Linked DNA regions of Homo sapiens. The protein of the gene in region 2 interacts with the protein of the main gene of each other region in a pairwise test. Each region holds a gene or a part of one and is shown on either strand. Other genes may lie near its edges. The genes, in order: BRPF3, ACTR3 and UNG.

Region 1 (7,839 bases), on a different chromosome or scaffold from region 2:
TGTTTAGCTCATAGGAACTCCTTTCTATTTTGTAGACTGGATGTTGCCCAGTTCATAAACAGCTAATAAAGCCAATTGGATCTTTGGGACTCATTTGTTGAAATTTTATTCTTTGATACGTTCTTCCTCTTTGCTCATGCGGGTGGCTCAGCCTGGACCACACTCCCTCTACCATCTTTCTAGCTGACACACCTACCTGAGAGCTTTCAGGTAGAGCTCAGATAGCACTTTCTTCACAGAGCCTTCCCTCTTCTCCTAAACAGACGAGCTCACTCCCTCCTCCAAACTTTGGCACTTCGTTTGCATCTCTCTTGAAGTGCTTATATTGTAGCACGTTCCAGTTATAAATACCCTTGCTTTATACTGTGATTAGAATCTAAATGCCTTCAAGTCTGCAAGCATACTCTTTTCACCTTTGTGGCCTTTACAGCCATAAAATAGAACCTTACCAGCAGCTCACAAATAGTAATTGAATAAATATGTATTTCAGTGTGACCAAAAGAGGTTCCAGAGAACTTGAGCTGATTTCATCATTTCTTCAATCCTCAGGTTCCCACCTCCAATAGGAGCTCCCGAGCAACCCTTTGCCACCTCTTAATTTGCAATGATTGTACCAAACTGTGAGAACCTACAAAGTTTGAACTTAGATTCTTCTTCAATCTTCTCCTTTGTTCTTATGTCCAATCAGACAAAACAGTTGCTTTGTCATCTGATTTCTGATTTGACCTTTCCTTTTCCTCTTTCTCTAACACATTTTCCATCATTCTGCTTAATGCCTTTTTATTTTCATAATGCCTAATTACCTATAGTAAACTCTTCCAGGTTTACCGGATCTCCTGTTCTACTTTCTCCAATACATAAAGAGGATAACAGTAACATTTTATAGAGTTAGTAAGTTGATAAATAAGATATGGTGTGCATATTGGACCTAGTTTGTACATGTACCTACTACCCCATTGTACAATCTTCTCCTGCTCATGTCCTCTGGTTTTAGGAGTTGATACATGACAAGCAGCATGTCCCTCTGGCCACAGTTATTGGCTCAGGATGGCTGAGAAATTGCAAGATACAGTATGCTGATGACATAATTCGAGTCCTTTGACTCGATCTTGTCTATAGCTAGATGCACCCCTGGACTTTCTGGTTATGAGAGTTTATTTCCTTTATTAAACTCACTTAAGTTGGTTTTCTGCTAACTGCAACAAAGATCTTTAATAAATGGAGTATATAAAGCACTAAGCACAGTACCTTGTACATAAGTGTTAGGTATTATTTTTATTATCCCTGTCCCCTTGCCATACCTCCTACCCAATTCAATCTTTTTCTTATCATCTGCCCATACATACCAGCTAGGATAATTTCCGCATTATTCCCTGCATATTTTCCCTTTGCCTGGACTGTCCTGTCACCAACCCAATGTCACTTTACACTCTTTTCACCAGTTCACATCCATCATGATTTAGAACTTGGCTTAAAGAAGTCTCCCATTCTCCAAGAAGCCTTCTTTGAATAATGGTGGCTCCATACTCTTCACTGCCTTATCTATTTTTTCTTGTATGTGTTTTCTACTTATTTCTACCATTCTGGATTGCACACTACTCAAGGCAAGAAAAAATATATTCTATCTATACTTATGATCATTAGTCCCTTTCTAGGTTGAGATTTTGTCATTATTTTCCAAAGAACTTGTGCAGTATTAGACACACTCTAAGTGGTCAATGAATACGTTTTAGAAATACATAAATGGAATTAAATCTAGAGAGTGTGGTATGTTACTCTATTTAAGACCTGTTGTTAACCTAGCTAAACTTTTCCCATTTTCCAAGCAAACTTTACATTCTTAAACCATTTTAATTAGTGTAAAAGTATCGGCCGGGCGCGGTGGCTCACGCCTGTAATCCCAGCACTTTGGGAGGCCGAGGCGGGCGGATCACGAGGTCAGGAGATCGAGACCATCCCGGCTAAAACGGTGAAACCCCGTCTCTACTAAAAATACAAAAAATTAGCTGGGCGTAGTGGCGGGCGCCTGTAGTCCCAGCTACTTGGGAGGCTGAGGCAGGAGAATGGCTTGAACCCGGGAGGCGGAGCTTGCAGTGAGCCGAGATCCCGCCACTGCACTCCAGCCTGGGCGACAGAGCAAGACTCCGTCTCAAAAAAAAAAAAAAAAAAAAAAAAAGTATCACAATGATTCCAACCTCAAACATTCCTCCCAACTGTGGTTTCAGAATTCTTTTAGTCAAGTATCTAAGGAAGGAATATTCTATTAAAAATAATTTAACAATCAATCAAGGCCTATTTTTTTCCTTATCATCCACGTTATTAATCCAGTGGGTACTGCGTCTGACCCCTGAGAGGTTTCTTGGCCTGATAAACTAATGACAATAGTGAAGCATTAACAAAGATATCCTGAGATGCTGAAAAAAAGTATGATGGGGAAGTATGAAAGAAAGAGGTGGGGAAATGGTGATTTTTTTTTGTATTCATGTTTCTTTTAGTTTTAAATGGTAAAACCTTCTCCTATCCCAAATAAGTTGGTTTCTACTTACAGCTGGAAGGTTCTTAAAAACAACTATTTGGAATCAAAGATCCATGCCTCTGTTTGTTGAATTTAATTGCTGTATGGTTTATTGGAAAGGCCAGGGGTGGTGAATTTAAACCGTTTAAAATAGCAAACGATTAAAGTGAATTAAATTTAGTGCCTCTGAGATTTTTGATATATGTTCCAAATTTGTTTTTAATAACATAATTGTTCCATGTTACATTTAAGATTCCATCACAGGGAACTGGTTACGTGTGCAGTTATGCTTGTAGAAACCAATTCCAAATGTCAAAAATTAAAGTGAGGGCAACTGTAATGATATCATTAAAAAAGTAGAAGTTGAAAATGGAAGAGAAACACTTAGGTTGAATAAGGTCTTAATATGAAAGCTTTGAATAGAAAAACCTGAAAAAAATCACATGCATTAGGTTGACTTAAGGCCTTTTCAACAGCATTTAAATCGTTGACTTACAAGTAGAAACCAATGCATTTTCTCAAGGTATTTATTCATTCATTTTAGTGGAAAAAGATAGCTCCTGATCACGCAAATGGGAATTGTGCTAAATAAATTTTGAGAACATCCATCAAGAAATAAAAGTTACTAGTCATATGTATAAATGATTATTATATTTCATGTTTTAATAGTTTCTGTTAGTTTTCAGACTTTTTTTTTCTTAACTACAAGTACTGTAATTGCAATATTTTCTTGCCTCTGGGGCTTTCTCTTCCACAATTAATCATCTTTTTCTTCCACACCTTCCCTCCAAATGATTATTCCCCCTAGCTTCAGAACACTTGACATTAATTCATACTATTTCATCTTCACAGCTTTCAAAACATTGTCCTGCCCTTGCTTAGCTCCACGAGCCACCCCCCTTGCATTTAAAAAATTGGTTAACAGAAGCATTTTTGTACTATCTCTTTGCCAGAAGATGCTATTTACTTGGAAACAAATTAGCTTCCTTAATCAAACTTTTGAATTTGAAACTCTCTATATTTAAATTCCTTAGTATAACATCTATACTTCCAAAGTAGCAGTATGTTCACTTTAAACATTCAGAAAATTTGGATCCTAAGACTTTATCCTTCATCCTTCTGACTCTAGAATACATGTCCTTGATCATCAGAACCAAGAAAGAAATTGAGTCTCACCAGCTACACCACAAGTGCCAGCAGAGGAAACACTTTCAAACTGTCACTCACCTTCACATTTACAGGCAGCTTATCCATACGTCCTTTATAAACATCATTATGTATTGGTGCTTAAGACTTCAGTCACATGAGGTAAGCTTTCCAGTTTACAGGCAAAAGGGGGTGGCAATGGAGCCCTTTTCTTTATTTTTTTGTTTTTTTAGATCAAAACAAAAGCCAGTTTGGTCTGATGCTGCCATTTGTCAAGCATCTTTTAGAAAGCCGCCTAATGCATTAAATTAACCAAGTCAGGTTTAAAGTGTTTCCCATGCCCACAGTGACAGACGAGTTACCAGGCATGCTTAAGCAGACTGTCAAACTTTTGTTTACTCCTTTTAAACGGAAAGTCAGATTTTTTTTTTTTTTTTTTAAAAGATGTGTGGTGCGGAACAAGACGCTCACCTGTACACAACAAAGGCAGGTCTTTCCCGGCTGTCCTCACTGGGGGAGGGGATGGACAATCGCTAGACCTTTGTCCTCAGGTCCTGGGCATGGGGGTTAGGGGAGACGCGACTTTCTGGGAGTCGTGCAGGCACCTGCAGTCAAGAAACTACATATTGGTTTTGACCTCAATGACTGCCCTGGCTTAACCTTTGGAGAGGCCCTTTAGTTCGGGGAGGGGGCTTGCTGCTCCAAACCGTAGCCACGTCACCCACAAGGACTGGGGAGGAAATGACTGACCGCTCAAGAGTCAGGGACCCCTGTCTCTCCCAACTAGACCCGAACGTCCACAGCCCTCTTATCGGGCTCGCCCCGTGGCGGGCAGGGCCGTGGTGCGCAGGGATCGCGGCGGGCGCAGACCCGGTCTCTTGCTCGGTGTCCCCGCCGCGCCCGCACCGCCACCGTGAGGCCGAGCCGGGGATGGTGCCCCGTGGCGGCGGCGGCGGCGCCTCCGCGCTCCTCTCCGCACCGCCCCGGCCGCCGCCGCGCCAGGCACGGGCGGGGGGATTTTTTTCCCGTTTCCCCCTCTTTCGCGCTCTCGCTCCTGTTCAGCGGGAGAGCCCGCAGAGTCAGGGAGGGAGCGAGGGAAGGGGTGGAGGTGGCGGGGGGAGGCCGGAGGGGCGGATCCTGCCTGGGGGCTGATCCCTCCCTCCCCTCGGCCGGGCTCCGTGGCGGCAGCGGCAGCAGCGGCGGCTCCATTCCCCCTCCTCCCCCGGGAGCGGCGGCGGCGGCCGGGCCGGGGCCCCAGCGCGGGCCGGGAGGGGGCACGGCGGAGGCCACGGAGGCAGGCGCGGGAGAAGACCGCGCTCCGCTTCCCGGGCCGCGCCGACCTGCTCGGCGGCCTGCCCGCCCGCGCCCAGGGGCCCCGAACGGTGGGGCCGGGCAGGCGGCTGAGGTAATGGGGGCGGCAGCGGGGCCGGACAGAGCGGGGGCGGGGGCATCGGGGCCTTCGGGGACCAGGGACTGCACGGGGGGAAACCGGAGAAGCGGGGGGCTTTCCGAGCAGGGCGGGGGCGGTGCGAAAGCTCTCTCCTGGAGCGAGGGCGGCGGCAGGGAAGGAGAAGGCGGGTGAGCGGGGGAGCTGAGAAGCGAGGACCCCCTCCCGCAGCCGCCATCTTGTCTCCCCCCCCAGCCCTGGATTCCGAGCCGCTAAGCCCCGCCCCCGCCACGCCTTCCAATTGGCCTGGCCAGACGAGAGTCCCGCCCCTTGAGCGGCCCTAGGTCCCCTGGGTCCCTCTGACGGGCAGGTGACGCAGCCAATGGGTTCTCGCCTCTCCGCCCCGCTCATTCGCTGGCGCTCGCTTTCTCTGTCTGAGGGTCGGACTCCACGTCAGGCTGTCTCTGGTGCGCTCGCCCCTCCCCTCTGAGGAGATGTTATTTCCCTCCTTTCTTCTCCGAGGGGTCAAGATTCTTCTGGAAGAGGTGCCCCCTTAAAGGAGCAGGAGCCTTGGCTGGGGTCCTCCTTGTCTCCTGAGTATCTTGTGTGAGGTGCAGGGGATACAGTCTAATTGCAGAAGCTCCTCATTCTTCGGGGACCTGGATGGGGTGGGTGAGCGAGGGGTCAGGGGGTGCCGAGGGGAAATCTGGGGGGGCGGGGGTTGTTGGAGATATTTTGGAGGTGTGTATGTGGGAAGGGCTGTGTAGGTTGAGAAACTCCCGCCAAAAAACTCGTCTAGACTGTAAGCTCCTTGTGGGCGAAACTCTTTTCATTTCCCTCATCAGCAGTCCCTTCCCCCTCTAGAGTTTCTCCCCGGTGTCTGGAGGCGTGGGTGGGACAAAACACGTCTGTGTAGAGTCTTGCATGGTCGAGAGATGCTTGAGCAGCCGAGGAGGTGGCAGGTGGGGAAGGAGAAGATGGAGCGGCTTTCATGAAAGTGGGCGCCGCACCGCCTGTCTGCGCTGTTTGGGGTCGGTGTGGAGGCAGATGTTCTCACCTCTTCTAGGGCCTCGGTGCCTTTGGAGGGGTGGGTGATGAAGCAGGTCTGTTGGCCCTGTCTGCCCCCAGGGACTTGGCATTTGTAAGGAATCCAGTAGCCAAGGGCCTCTGGAACCCGGACAGAATTGCTGCGATGATTCTGTTTCCTTTGGCTCCAAATGGGGTGTGTGCCAGCCCGCCTGGCACTGCTCCTCAGCCAAATTGGTTTTTTGTTTGTTTCAGTCACACTTTGGGATTGGAAGGCCTTTCAAGTAAAGATGTTAATAATACCTTATTAACAAGTAGCACCTAGAGAGCTAGATTGTGTTACCCTCATTTTACTGATGGAGTATGGAGGCATAGAGAGCTTAAGGGACTTTCTCTAGGTCACAGAGGGCCAAGATTAGAACCTAGATTGCCCCAGAGCCTCGTTTTGTACCAGACCATAGCACCTCTGTGGTGTTCTTAATTCCCACTGAGAGGAATTGAGCATCGGAAGACCTGGGTTCAAATTGTAGCGTTATCACTTACTAGCTTTACGTTGAGTGACATCTTTCTGAGCTTCTGTGTAGATGATAATAGCTACACCATCTCCTAAGGTAGTTGTGAGAAATATTAAAAGTAAGAGGGCTTTGTAGTTTGGAAAAAGTGCTTTTATTATCACCGTCTCTACTTTATATAGATGGTAGACCCTGCAACCAAGGCGATGAATTGTTTTTCTCTTTGAAATCTTCTCTTTGTTCATATCCTTCCAAGTCTGCCCACACCATGGGGCCCTGTATCCCCAAAGGTCTCTCCTGGTGGTGACAGCCTTGGTAACTGCCTACCGCAGCTCCTTATGAGCTTGTCATCCAGAGAATGATGGGGGAAACTAGGACTTTCTCTTGGCTGTACAAGGATAGACTAGATATGAGTGTTCTGGGAGAGACTTTTGAGGTAACAGAATGCATTGAGAGTTTACCTCAGATACTGCCCAGATCATCTTGGCCTTCGGTCGAATGAAGGTCCTAGACAGGCCACTATAACTTCAGAGATCTCTTGGAGCCACTCTCAGAGCTTCTAGGGTTTGTTTCTGCCTGGAAATGTACTAGTTGGTGTATCCTGGATCAGGGGTTCCCAACCCCCAGGCCGCAGACTGTGGCCTGTTAAGAACCAGGCCATACAGCAAGAGGTGAGTGGCGGGCAAGCGAGCATTACCACCTGAGCTCTGCCTCCTGTCAGATCAGCGGCTGCTTTGGATTCTCATAGGAGCGCGAACCCTACTGTGAACTGCGCATGTGAGGGATCTAGGTTGCATGCTCCTTATGAGAATCTGACTAATGCCTGATGATCTGAGGTGGAACAGTGTTCACCACCCACCCTCATCTGTGGAAAAATTGTCTTCCACGAAACCAGTCCCTGGTGCCAAAAAGGCTGGGGACTGCTGTCCTGGATGGTGTCTTTTGTAGGGAATACCCTGCATACTGTAGTTTGAAGCCCTTAGACCATGTATCATAGATATTTCAGATGCCTTCACCCCTTCACCTCTAGGCAGGGTCAAGGAGTAGGGTTTCTGATCGTGGTAAGAGGTATTGGGAGAAGACTCTAGTGACTTTTGATCCTCTGATGGGGCCCATTGTTCACGTACAGAGCTTGACAGTGGATGCTTTTCTTGTTTTCTTTTCTAAACCGTTAACTACATGTGTTTTCCATAGTTAGCTGTCGCCCAGCTTTATGTACATCATTAGAACATTAGATCTTTCCCCATGTTACA
Region 2 (7,163 bases):
AAGAATTTGAAAAGAAATGCTTCATTCACATTGATACCCTTATCTACACACTTTTTTGGTCTGTATTGGAAAGCATTGTAAAATACAGTTGGGGCACATAGATTCCCATTGGTGGCTTGAAAACTAAATAACAGAACTCAAACCTGCTATTAGTGGTGAGAAAAGCATTTTCTTTAAAAGGCATTCACAAACATTTTTTAAAAAAACATTGTAACACTTGTATGATCATCCTAAGGTTTTTTTTTTTCTGGGCGGTGGAAGGGATCGTTTTTTAAATGTGTTTTTTGCTTTTTGTTTTTTTGTTTGTTTGTTTGTTTGTTTTGAGATGGAGTCTTGCCCTGTCGCTGGGCTGGAGTGCAGTGGCACGATCTCGGCTCACTGCAACCTCCACCTCCCAGGTTCAAGCTATTCTCCTGCCTCAGCCTCCCGAGTAGCTGGGACTACAGGCACATGCCACCACACCCAGTTAATTTTTCTCTTTTTAGTAGAGATGGGGTTTCACCATGTTGACCAGGATGGTCTCCATCTCCTGACCTCGTGATCCACCCGCCTCAACCTCCCAAAGTGCTGGGATTACAGGTGTGAGCCACCGCGCCCAGCCTTAAAGGTTTTTTTTAAATGCATGTTTTTACTCAAGTTTCTCCATCATTCAAGCCAAATGAGGGCGCTCCTTATTAACTCCTTGTTATATCGTAGCTTGGTTACAGAGCTGCATTGTGAATTTCCTTTTCCCTTTTATGTCTTTTTTTTTCCCCTGGTAAATAAAATATTGGTAAATTAGTTCCACTGATTATGATAGCAGAGGTTAATATAGCCCTATGGTCAAAGTCTTGGATATATTCATATCTGGAGCAGATTAAGGAATTTTGCTAACTGACTTCAACTTCTTAGCAATCTTAAAATGTAAGCTTAAATATCTTGTAGGTGTCAGTGAAAGAGGAGTATGTTCATCTTGTGGCCACAATTCAGCAATTAGTGCAGATAAGAATGATCTTGTTTGAAGAGCAGTGGGGAAAAGCTGGGTAAATGAAGGAAGGTATATGTGGGAAGTTCATGTTTCTTCCATGAATTCTGTGCGTATTGTTTAATAATAATGCTGTTTCTTTTTTTTTTTTTGAGATGGAGTTTTGCTCTCATCGCCCAGGCTGGAGTGCAGTGGCATGATCTTGGCTCACTGCAACCTCCTTCTGCCTCCTGGGTTCAGGTGATTTTCTGCCTCAGCCTCCCAAGTAGCTGGGATTATAGGCGCCCACTACCACGCCCAGCTAAATTTTGTATTTTTAGTAGAGACAGAGTTTCACCATGTTGGCCAGGCTGTTGTTGAACTCCTGACCTCAGGTGATCCACCCACCTCATCCTCCCAGAGTGCTGGGATTACAGACATGAGCCACTGCACCGGCTTAATAATGCTATTTCTTTAGCCATCTCCAAAGGCAGAAATATTCACAATAGCTTCTTAACCAAAAAGCACTCATTGAAATTCTTATTCCTTGATGAGTCATGCTTTGCATGCTGTTTGAAGTAAGTACAACAGACATGCTCCTAGTGAGAAGTCAGACTCTTACTTAGACTTAGCGAAAGACTCTCCCTCCTTTCCTGCCTGCCAATTTTGTGTTGAAATATTGACTTTGGATTGCAAATACTATATTGCGGTGAACGAACTTTCAGGCTTATTGTAAAACACAGTTCAGAATTTTAGGCACAGAACGGAAAGGTCCTGTGGAGGACCTGCTGGCCATGCTTTCTGTGACAGCTATTTTTTAACCTAATTTTATAAGTGAAAAAACAGAATGAGAGAATTTAAATTACCTTTTTGATGCCGTCTACCTGGCAGGTGGTTCGATCTGCTATTTGGACCTGAGTTCTGTATTTAAGTCCTGTGTTCTTTCTGTTAACACTCCGGGGACTCCTGACTGCCTTTTCAGAACTTTATGTGTTGCTTCATTGTTGTTAGTAAAGTTAACTGTATTTCTGTTTAAAGAACTCTTACAAAAAAAAATCTCAGCCTTATGAATTTGATTCACCTAATTAGAGAAAACCCTCTGTGTAATCTTTACTTGGTTTAGGTTCCCCCCCCCCACCCCCCTGCCGATATGTGAATGCCTAGACTATTTCCTTGTTACTTTGCTTAAATTTAATCTCTAGAAAAAAATTACTCTCTAGGTTGTGTTTCTCAGGAAATAATAATAGCTAGCATTTATCGAGAATTGTATGTCAGCCCCTGTGCTAAATGCTTTATATTATCTCATTAACTTTCACAACAACCTGGAAAGTATTATCTTTGTTTTATAGGCTAGAAAATTTAGTCTTAAGAGAGGTTAAGCTACTTACCCAAGATACTGTAGCAAGTAAGTATGGCAGAGCCACTACACTAGATCTTCCTTCCGTAGAAGATGAACGTTTGACATGGCTTGGTGCATAGTAGGAATTCAAATCTTTGTTGTATGAATGAATGAACAAGAATTAGGAGTATGGTTTTTAAAAAAACTGTGCATCAGAAACACCCCATACCCAGTGACTCAGAATCTCAAGGGTTGGACTATGAATATTCATTTACATAGGCTTCCTAGATGATTCTTCAGCAGCCCATTCAAGGGCTAACTTTGCAGAAATTCTGAAACCTGGTATTGGCGGTGGAGTTGGAGCAGAAGAGATAAGTTAGGAAAAGATTGGTTTTTTCCTTTCTTTTTACGTTTCTTCTGGCAGTTATATTTCGTGTTATTTTATTTACGGGTAGCAAAGGCTTTGTAGTTATCTGTTGTTGAGTTCAAGCTCTATCACTTAATAGCTATATGACTTTATACACTTCAACCTCTGCAGGTCTTATTTCTTCCCATCTGTAATTTGGAGATGATAGTGTATACCTTATAGGTTTTTTTTGTTTGTTTTTGAGACTGGGTCTCTGTTGCCCAAACTGGAGTTCAATGGCAAGATCATGGCTCACTGCATCCTCAAACTCCTATGTTCAAGCTGTCTTCCTGCCTCAGTCCCCCGAGTAGCTGGGACTACAGGCACATGCCACCATGTGTGGCTACTTTTAAAAATTTTTTGTAGAGATGGGGTCTCACTGTGTTGCCTCAGGCTGGTCTCAAACTTCTAGCACAAGTAATCCTCTTGCCCTGACCTCTTAAAGTGTTGAGATTACAGGAGTGAGCCACCATGCCCAGTTTTGTTTTGTTTTGTTCTGTTTTTTGATAATGTGTGAAAATGGTTCAGCACAGTGCCTGGCACACAGTAAGGGCACAATATATTTTAAATATAATAATTGGTTGGCTTTCTTTTTTTTTTGAGTTTCAGTTCTTAAAGAAAGGAATACAGTGTGTTATGCTTATTTTCTTATCTCCTGCAGGCCTTGGCCTGCCTACCACACACAGTTCTCTGCACAGTCAAAATGTTTTTGCTGATTTGAGAGATTGAAGGAGGTATAGCTAGGACTTGGCAGTTGATTCCAGTGGATTGTAAATAGGCATCAATGAATAGTTCAAGATTGTAAGCCTGAGTGATTGGGACAATAAGGGAGTTAGTTTTAAGAAACTGAGTAAAATTGGAATTTGTTGTTGAATTTGGAATGATGATTTATAATTGGAAACATTCTAGAGGAAATTAAAAATACAGGACCTTTGGGAATGAAGGTGGATATTTGGGAATCATAATTTGTTAACTGAAGCTAATAAGATGAGAGCATTCAGAGAGAAAAGAACGGAAAGATTGAATATCAGTTTCCCTTCTTTAAAAAAATTGTGGATATGTGATCTAGCTTCTTGAGCATCACAGTGACTGATTGGCTCGTGGTAATTGATCGCTATGCTGACAATCTTATCTCCACCTATGTCATTCAATTTTCTAAGAGGCAAAATCCTTAATCAGGAGGAGAGTTTAGCTCTAGCTAAATTTCCCTTGTCCAGCATGCTCCTGCTCCCCCAACTTGTGGAAACAGCTAAAGGATTGGACTAGGAGCAGAAGTTTGGAATGGTTAAAATGTAGCAACATGTGTTTCCTGAAACAAAATTCCACTATAATAAAAAAAGCATTTGAATGCTCCCTTGTAATTCTGTTGGAGCTTGTTGCCTTTTTTATGACACAACCATAATCAGTGATAGACAGTAGCATAAAGAAGCAAGAGCAAAGCAATTAAGTAATAATAGCACTACAAAAATGTGTGCTGTAGCTTACCAAACACGACATTTATGAATTATTAGATAGGAGATAAGGTGATGTTATTGGATTGTTTTAAATTTAGTTCTTTGAAATAGGATAGTGACTAATATTAGTTTGTGTGCTGATTTTATAACTTTATATGGGCCTTTATATCAGGAAACAACGTAACCTACATAATTGACTAATACCAGAGCAAAAAAAAGAAAAAAAATTCTAGTTTTTTTAAAGGACGATTTTGCAGAATTTTAATAATAATTTTGTTTCAGAATTTTCAAAATTCTTTCCAAACTGTCGATTTAAACTCAAGCCATTCTTACATACTCCTTGGAACCAGGAAAGGAATAGCTTGAATTTGTGTGGCCAGATGTTATTTTTTTTTTTTTTTTTTTTTTTTTTGAGGCAGAGTGTTGCTCTGTCACCCAGGCTAGAGTGCAGTGGCGTGATCTTGGCTTGCTGAAACCTCCGTCTCCAGGGTTCAAGCTATTCTTCTGCCTCAGCCTCCCGAGTAGCTGGAATTATAGGCACCCGCCACGATGCCTGGCTAATTTTTGTGTTTTTAGTAGAGACCGGGTTTCACCATATTGGCCAGGCTGATATTGAACTCCTGAACTCAAGTGATCCACCCGTCTCGGCCAGATGTATTCTTTCAGCTTTCCTTCTGCTCCCCAACCCTAATACATACCTGAGAAGAATATTCATCTGTTCGGATACTCAACATGCCATGTTTTCCTCCTGCCGAAGGACATTACCTAAACGTTTTATTTTTAAACATTTTGTCCTTGCTTTAAGACTTTGTGTCATTTGTGAAAATGCAATGCTCTTGGGAAGGGTTTCTGTGCTTTTCAGTATTTAGTGTAAAGGAGAGGTTACAATGAGGAGGATAAAAGTCCTAGAGAGAGAATTAGGGTGCAGAAGACCTTGTAGTTTAGGGTTGGCTTAATCTACTGTAAACATGTAAACCATGTTTTTAGTATTAGTGTATGACAGGACACAAGTGTTTGCCTAGTTATAGAGATTATTTTAGTTAAATCTAGTGTGCTTCTGCTATAAGCATTTTTAAAATTCAGTTACTCAAGGGTACAAATATAGCATTTAATGTGTATTTGTGAAACTTGCTTTAGTAAATTAAGGGAAATGCCTAATGACTCACACAGAATTATAGAGCTGAAAAGGGATTTTGAGAGATAATTTAATCCAGTCTTCATTTACAAATGAAACAGAGGCTCAGAGTTGAGAAATGTCTTTTGGGAGTGTTCCTAATTATTAATTGATAGTATTGTTGAGTTCTCTTAAATTTTCTTGTGAGTTCACATTTATGAGTTAATAGTTGAAATTAAGTAATTGGAATAACATAATGTATTTTATTTATAGTTAAAGTAGTTTTAGTTGAAGCCTACATCAGAATTCTTCAGTGTTTCGTTGTAATGCAGAGGCATACTGTATGGCACACATGAGAAACTAATTTTATGTTTCCCAATAATAATGTTTTAAACCAAGTTTAGAGATATTTTAAAAGTTGTGCTCTGTAGGTGCCAGGACAGATGACTTTCATAAAATGAATGCTCTCTTTAAAAAAATTTTTCTTTATGGTTTCAGAGATTTATATCTTTGGATTTTAATTATTAAAGATGTATTAAATGGGATGTGTACCAATCAGCCATTTCAAGGCCCTTTGCACGTTTTGTTTTGGATGTTATTACCTTTTCAGAAGCCCTGTGAGGTAGTTACTGTTATAAATAATCCCATTTCAAAGATAAGTAGTAGATTTAGAATTTTAGTCCTGGGGTAGTCTCATTCCAGAGCTCACTGCTCTACTGTTCCCTAATTGAGATACATCCAAGGAGAGTGGTCAAATTATTAGTCCAGTTTTTAAGAGTGTCCATTTTATACATACTTAAACCCAAAGCTACTAATTTTTAGTACAAATATGAAACATATAGGGAGGTCTTAGTGACCAGTTCACTGATTTGATTAACCTATAACACATTAAAGTGAAATATGGATTTGCTTACTGCTTATTTGAGTATTGCAAGGACTGATAATTGCTGATAAATTCAGGGCAGCTCAAGGAAATGATGCTAATTACATATATCTTCAAAAGGAAGGCATACATATTTCTGAAGCTGCAATTTGAAAATGAATAATCTCCACTGATGCATTACTTACTGTAATTATTTTACTCACTATGTATTATGTGCTCATTAATGACTGCACAAAACACATATGAAAGTAAAAAAATAGAAGAACTTAAAGTAATCAAGTATTTATTTCAGTCTCAGTTCTGTGCTGAACACTATGGTATATACAAGAAAACTAAGGCATGATTTTATACTTGAGGTTTACAGTTTAGTTTCAAAGATGAAACTAATATGTGTGAAATAATTATGGATGGCTTACTAGCATTTAATTGTTTGGGCAGATTAATAAGGGCTGTAGTATTTGGAGGATGATTTATGAAGAAGCTGAACTTGATCAGATCCTTGGAAAAGCATAAATAGGATGTGATAGATATATGGGAAGAAGGACTTCAAATCTAGGATGTGAGCTAAATTGAAAGCTCCATAGTGGCAGGGATTATTTCTTTTTTGTGCATTCTCTATTCAAGTGATAGCGTCCTGCATGATATTTAATAATGCCCAGCAAATATTTTACTGATAAAGGGAAGTCATGAAGGAGTTTCAAAGTATTTGGGGGATGGGTCAGTTAGGAAATTGCCCTGCCTGGAATTCAGATATTTCTGTTGGGAGCTGTGGGACAGCAAGTAGTTTATTTACTCATCTTGCCTTATTTCAGAAGGATTTTAAATGGGGCAGAATGGTTTGCGATTTATTTGATAGACAGTAGTGGATTGTGTAGATCATTAAGCAAAAGAGTGATAAAAGGTAAATTTATGCACTATTAGTCTGGGTCTAGTATTTTACTTTATACAGCTTTATTGAGTTATAATTCACATACTGTAAAGTTTACTCTTTTAAAGTGTGTAATTGAGTAGTTTTTAGTATAGT
Region 3 (4,059 bases), on a different chromosome or scaffold from region 2:
CGCCACTGTACTTCAGCCTGAGCGACAGAGTGAGACTCGCTCAAAAAAAAAAAAAGAAAAAGAAAGAAAGAAAAAAAAACACAATTGTGGCTTCTTTCTTCGGACACTGGGGGATCCCACAGATCATCCTGACAGCCCCCACTACCTGAGCCTGGGCTGCGGGCCAGTGCGTCATCAGGGAGTCTTCCTGGAGCCCTGGCCTCACTTCCGAGTTCCAGATGTCTCGGAGTCTAGAAACACTGGCTGAGCGGGGGATGCAGGCGGCTCCCCTCCAACGTCACAGGGCTTGGCAGAACGTAGCCACGACGGGCACGCCATGTTCCCCGAAGAAATGCCTTCCTCAGGCCGTTAGTTACCCCTCTGGGGTCTCAGCTGGCAGCCGGTGCTCCACGGTGCTCGGAGTTGGGGCGCTGCTCCAGGCCGGGGGTTGGGCCCAGCGCTCACCGCAGCCAGGGGAGGGTTGGGCCGTTCCACTGAGCGGCAGGGCGGGGAGGAGGGGCAAGGGCGGCCCCTCCTGCAGACGGTGGTTGCTATGGGAACCCTGGGAGGCGCCAAGGGAAAGGGCAGCCCAAGGACGTCCATGGATGCCCTGGCCTGGACGCACAAAGGACACTTGCACAAAACAAACTTTTAACAAACTTTTATTAACAAACCTCGCGTAGAGCCAACTCTAACCCGACTAACAGCAAAAACAGCATTGCTAACAAGATCAAGGATGGAGGTGCAGACCCAATAAAGACCGTCTCTTAAAAAAAGGACTGGGAAAAATATATATATATATATCTGCATGAGTACTTCTTAAAAAACTAAAACTTTCCAGTGTTGCAGGAAAAAATATCCCAAAGTGATTTCAGTCGGTTAAAAAAAACAGTACTTGGCAGTCTGTGCTGCCTTAAAAACCCCAACTGGACATAACCCTAGGAGAAAATCACCCCACCCCATAAAGACAAAATTCCCTTTTCTCCTCTTCCTTGTTCAAATTCCACTGCTTATTCCACCAACACCCAAGGAATAACAAGACCCAGCTTACTTCTCTCGGTCTCTTATCTGATAAAGCTCACAGCAATCTTAACCTCTACTACAATCAGGAAATTGAGCCCTAATTTCTGGGCCAGATTCTGGAAAGTTGCAAAACATCCTTATGCTGCGAGGGGCCTGAGGACTCCTTCAAAGATCAAGGGGGCAGTGGAACTGGCAGAGACTGGCATGCCTGCCCTGCAAGGCTGAGACAAGGGGACCTTTCTAAGCAAAAACACCCCAACATCTGTCACTGAAAGTCTAACCAGGCAAAACCAAGGAGCAGCAGGCGCCAAACTAGGGCTGTGCCTGAAAGGTGCACATCTCCCCTGTTTCACCATAAAGGCAAGGGAGATAAAGAGAGCCAACTGAGTATTTGACCTCATCTGTCTTCTGCATATTTTAGGCCGAAGCCATGTTGCAGAGAAAGACATTTGGTCAAAGGGTAGCCTTTGTTGTTTGTGGTTGGATACAGCTGCCATTCCTGGACAGCCTGGTTCATGGCTGCTTTCTGGAAGCTTTTCCCCCTTATGCAGAGTACTTAAGAATTAATAGGAAAATTTTCAGTGGAACTTCGTAACTGGCAAATACGTTAACAGCAGCTTCTCAAAGGCCACCCCTCAGCTGATGATCACAGCTCCTTCCAGTCAATGGGCTTCTTGCCAGACTTCTGCAGCAGCTCATTGGTCTTTGAAAAGTGTCTACATCCAAAGAACCCTCTATACACTGACAAAGGGGAGGGATGAGCCGTCTGTAGTACATGGTGCCGCTTCTGAAAAAGATCAAGAATAAATGGTGGCAGATTTGGGACTTTTTAAATTTTTTTTTTTTTTTTTTGAGACAGAGTCTTGCTGCAGTGGCGTGATCTCGACTCACTGCAACCTCCGCCTCCCGGGTTCAAGCGATTCTCCTGCCTCAGCTTCCCAAGTAGCTGGGACTACAGGCGCGTGCCACCACACCCAGCTAATTTTTGTATTTTTAGTAGAGATGGGGTTTCATCATATTGGCCAGGATGGTCTCGATCTCTTGACCTCGTGATCCGCTCGCCTTGGCCTCCCCAAAGTGCTGGGATTACAGGCGTGAACCACCATGCCCGGCCGGGACTTTTTTTTTTTTTCCCCAAAAAGGAAGGACTGTGGCTGTTGCACTTTAAGACCCTGTGCGATTCCCCTTTGCCCTCTAAATTCTCCCCCTTCCAAAGTGGAGCATTCAGCATTTGCATTAGAACATTAGTCCGTTTGTTGAGCAACTACCTACCTTTGCTAGGCTCTGAGATGCAAAGAGCACCACCCTCTGCCTTCAAGTTGGCAATTATCTATGCAATTTTCAAGTGTCCCTATCATACTGCCAGCAATTTCCACTGCTAAGACTGTATTTGCTAAAGGACACCATGATGCATACACACACAGATAAACTCCTCAACTTATTAACACAATGGATGGGGTTAACATCTTGGAAAACCCATCCTAAGTAGAAAATATCCTAAGTTGAAGATATATTTATGACATATAACCTGCTGAACATCATAGCTTAACCTACCCTACCTTAAACATGCTCAGAACACCTACATTAGCCTACAGCTGGGCAAAACAAAGCTTCTTTTACAATGAAGTGTTTAGTACCTCATGTAACTCATTGAACACTGTACTGAAAGTGAAAAATAGAACGGGGCCAGTCACGGTGGCTTACACCTGTAATCCCAGTGCTTTGGGAGGCCAAGGTAGGACAACTGCATGGGACCAAGAGTTTACAACCAACTGAGGCAACATAGCGAGACCCCATCTCTACAAAAAAATTAAAAAGTTAGCCAAGTGTGATGGCATGCACCTGCAGTCCTAGCTACACAGAAGACTGAGGTGGCAGGATCACTTGAGCCCAGGAGTTCGAGGCTGCAAAAAGCTATAATTGTGCCACTGCACTCCAGCCTGGGTGACAGAGCAAGATCTTTTTTTTTAATTTTTTATTTTTTGAGATGGGGTCTTACTCTGTCACCCAGGCTAGAGTGTAGTGGCATGACTGTGGCCCACTGTAGCCTCCACCTCCTAGGCTCAAGTTACTCTCCCACCTCAGCCTCCTGAGTACCTGGGACCACAGGTGCGTGCCACTACACCAGGCTAATTTTTTGTGTTTTTTAGAGACAAGGTCTCACTATGTTGCCCAGGCTGTTCTCAAACCCCTGAGCTCAAGTGATCCGCCACCCTGGCCTCTCAAAGTGTTGGGATTACAGGCGTGAGCCACTGCTCCCAGCCAAGAGACCCTGTCTCTTAAAGAAAGAAAAAAAAACAACGTGTGAGTGCTCAAAGTATGGTTATACACCATTGTAAAGTCGAAAAAAATCAGGTCAAACTTCATAAGCCAGGGACCAGTTGTACCTACACAAATAGGTACATATAAAGGGACTGACACACTGCTTATGTCAGCTAAAACCTAGTATACAATTCAGTGTTACAGAACTGGCTAAATGTATTTTTCTAAAGTTCTTACAATGTAAAACCACATAACTCCTAGAAAAACATGCGAAAGATAAATATACTGATGAGATGACCTCCAAAATTTACCAAGTGAACAAAATGCAAAATAATTTCATTTTTTAAAAACTTTAGAAAAATACCCAAGACACTGTATTTAGTAGTTCCTTTAAGAGAAAGAGTGGAAGCCATTTACTTTCCATTTTGTGCCTTTCTGAACTCTCTGAATAGTCTTACAGCTCCTAAGAAGGAAGAATTAAAAAACAAAAACAAAAACAAAAAAATCTCGCCACAAAAATGGAATAGTTGGCCGGGCGTGGTGGCTCACACCTGTAATCCCAGCACTTTGGGAGGCTGAGGTAGGTGGATCACCTGAGGTCAGGAGTTCAAGACCAGCCTGACCAACATGAAGAAACTCCGTCTCTACTAAAAATACAAAATTAGCTGGATGTGGTGGTACATGCCTGTAATCCCAGCTACTCAGGAGGCTGAGGCAGGAGAATCACTTGAACCCAGGAGGGGGAGGCTGCAGTGAACTGAGATCACGCCATTGCACTCCAGCCTGGGCAACAAG

What was found.
Region 1: the proteins of ACTR3 (region 2) and BRPF3 interact in binary tests that used the Homo sapiens proteins (3 or more experiments, as listed by UniProt).
Region 3: the proteins of ACTR3 (region 2) and UNG interact in binary tests that used the Homo sapiens proteins (3 or more experiments, as listed by UniProt).

What each region holds. Positions count from the first base shown.
Region 1 is NC_000006.12:36,191,905-36,199,743, forward strand, and holds the start of BRPF3 (bromodomain and PHD finger-containing protein 3), read left to right. Parts: upstream 1-4,839; 5' UTR 4,840-5,066; exon of another isoform or gene 5,067-5,299; intron 5,300-5,480; exon of another isoform or gene 5,481-5,515; intron 5,516-7,839. UniProt on the Homo sapiens protein: Scaffold subunit of various histone acetyltransferase (HAT) complexes, such as the MOZ/MORF and HBO1 complexes, which have a histone H3 acetyltransferase activity.
Region 2 is NC_000002.12:113,892,991-113,900,153, forward strand, and holds part of ACTR3 (actin-related protein 3), read left to right. Parts: intron 1-7,163. UniProt on the Homo sapiens protein: ATP-binding component of the Arp2/3 complex, a multiprotein complex that mediates actin polymerization upon stimulation by nucleation-promoting factor (NPF).
Region 3 is NC_000012.12:109,107,559-109,111,617, reverse strand, and holds the end of UNG (uracil-DNA glycosylase), read right to left. Parts: intron 1,790-4,059; coding exon 1,649-1,789; 3' UTR 626-1,648; downstream 1-625. UniProt on the Homo sapiens protein: Uracil-DNA glycosylase that hydrolyzes the N-glycosidic bond between uracil and deoxyribose in single- and double-stranded DNA (ssDNA and dsDNA) to release a free uracil residue and form an abasic (apurinic/apyrimidinic; AP) site.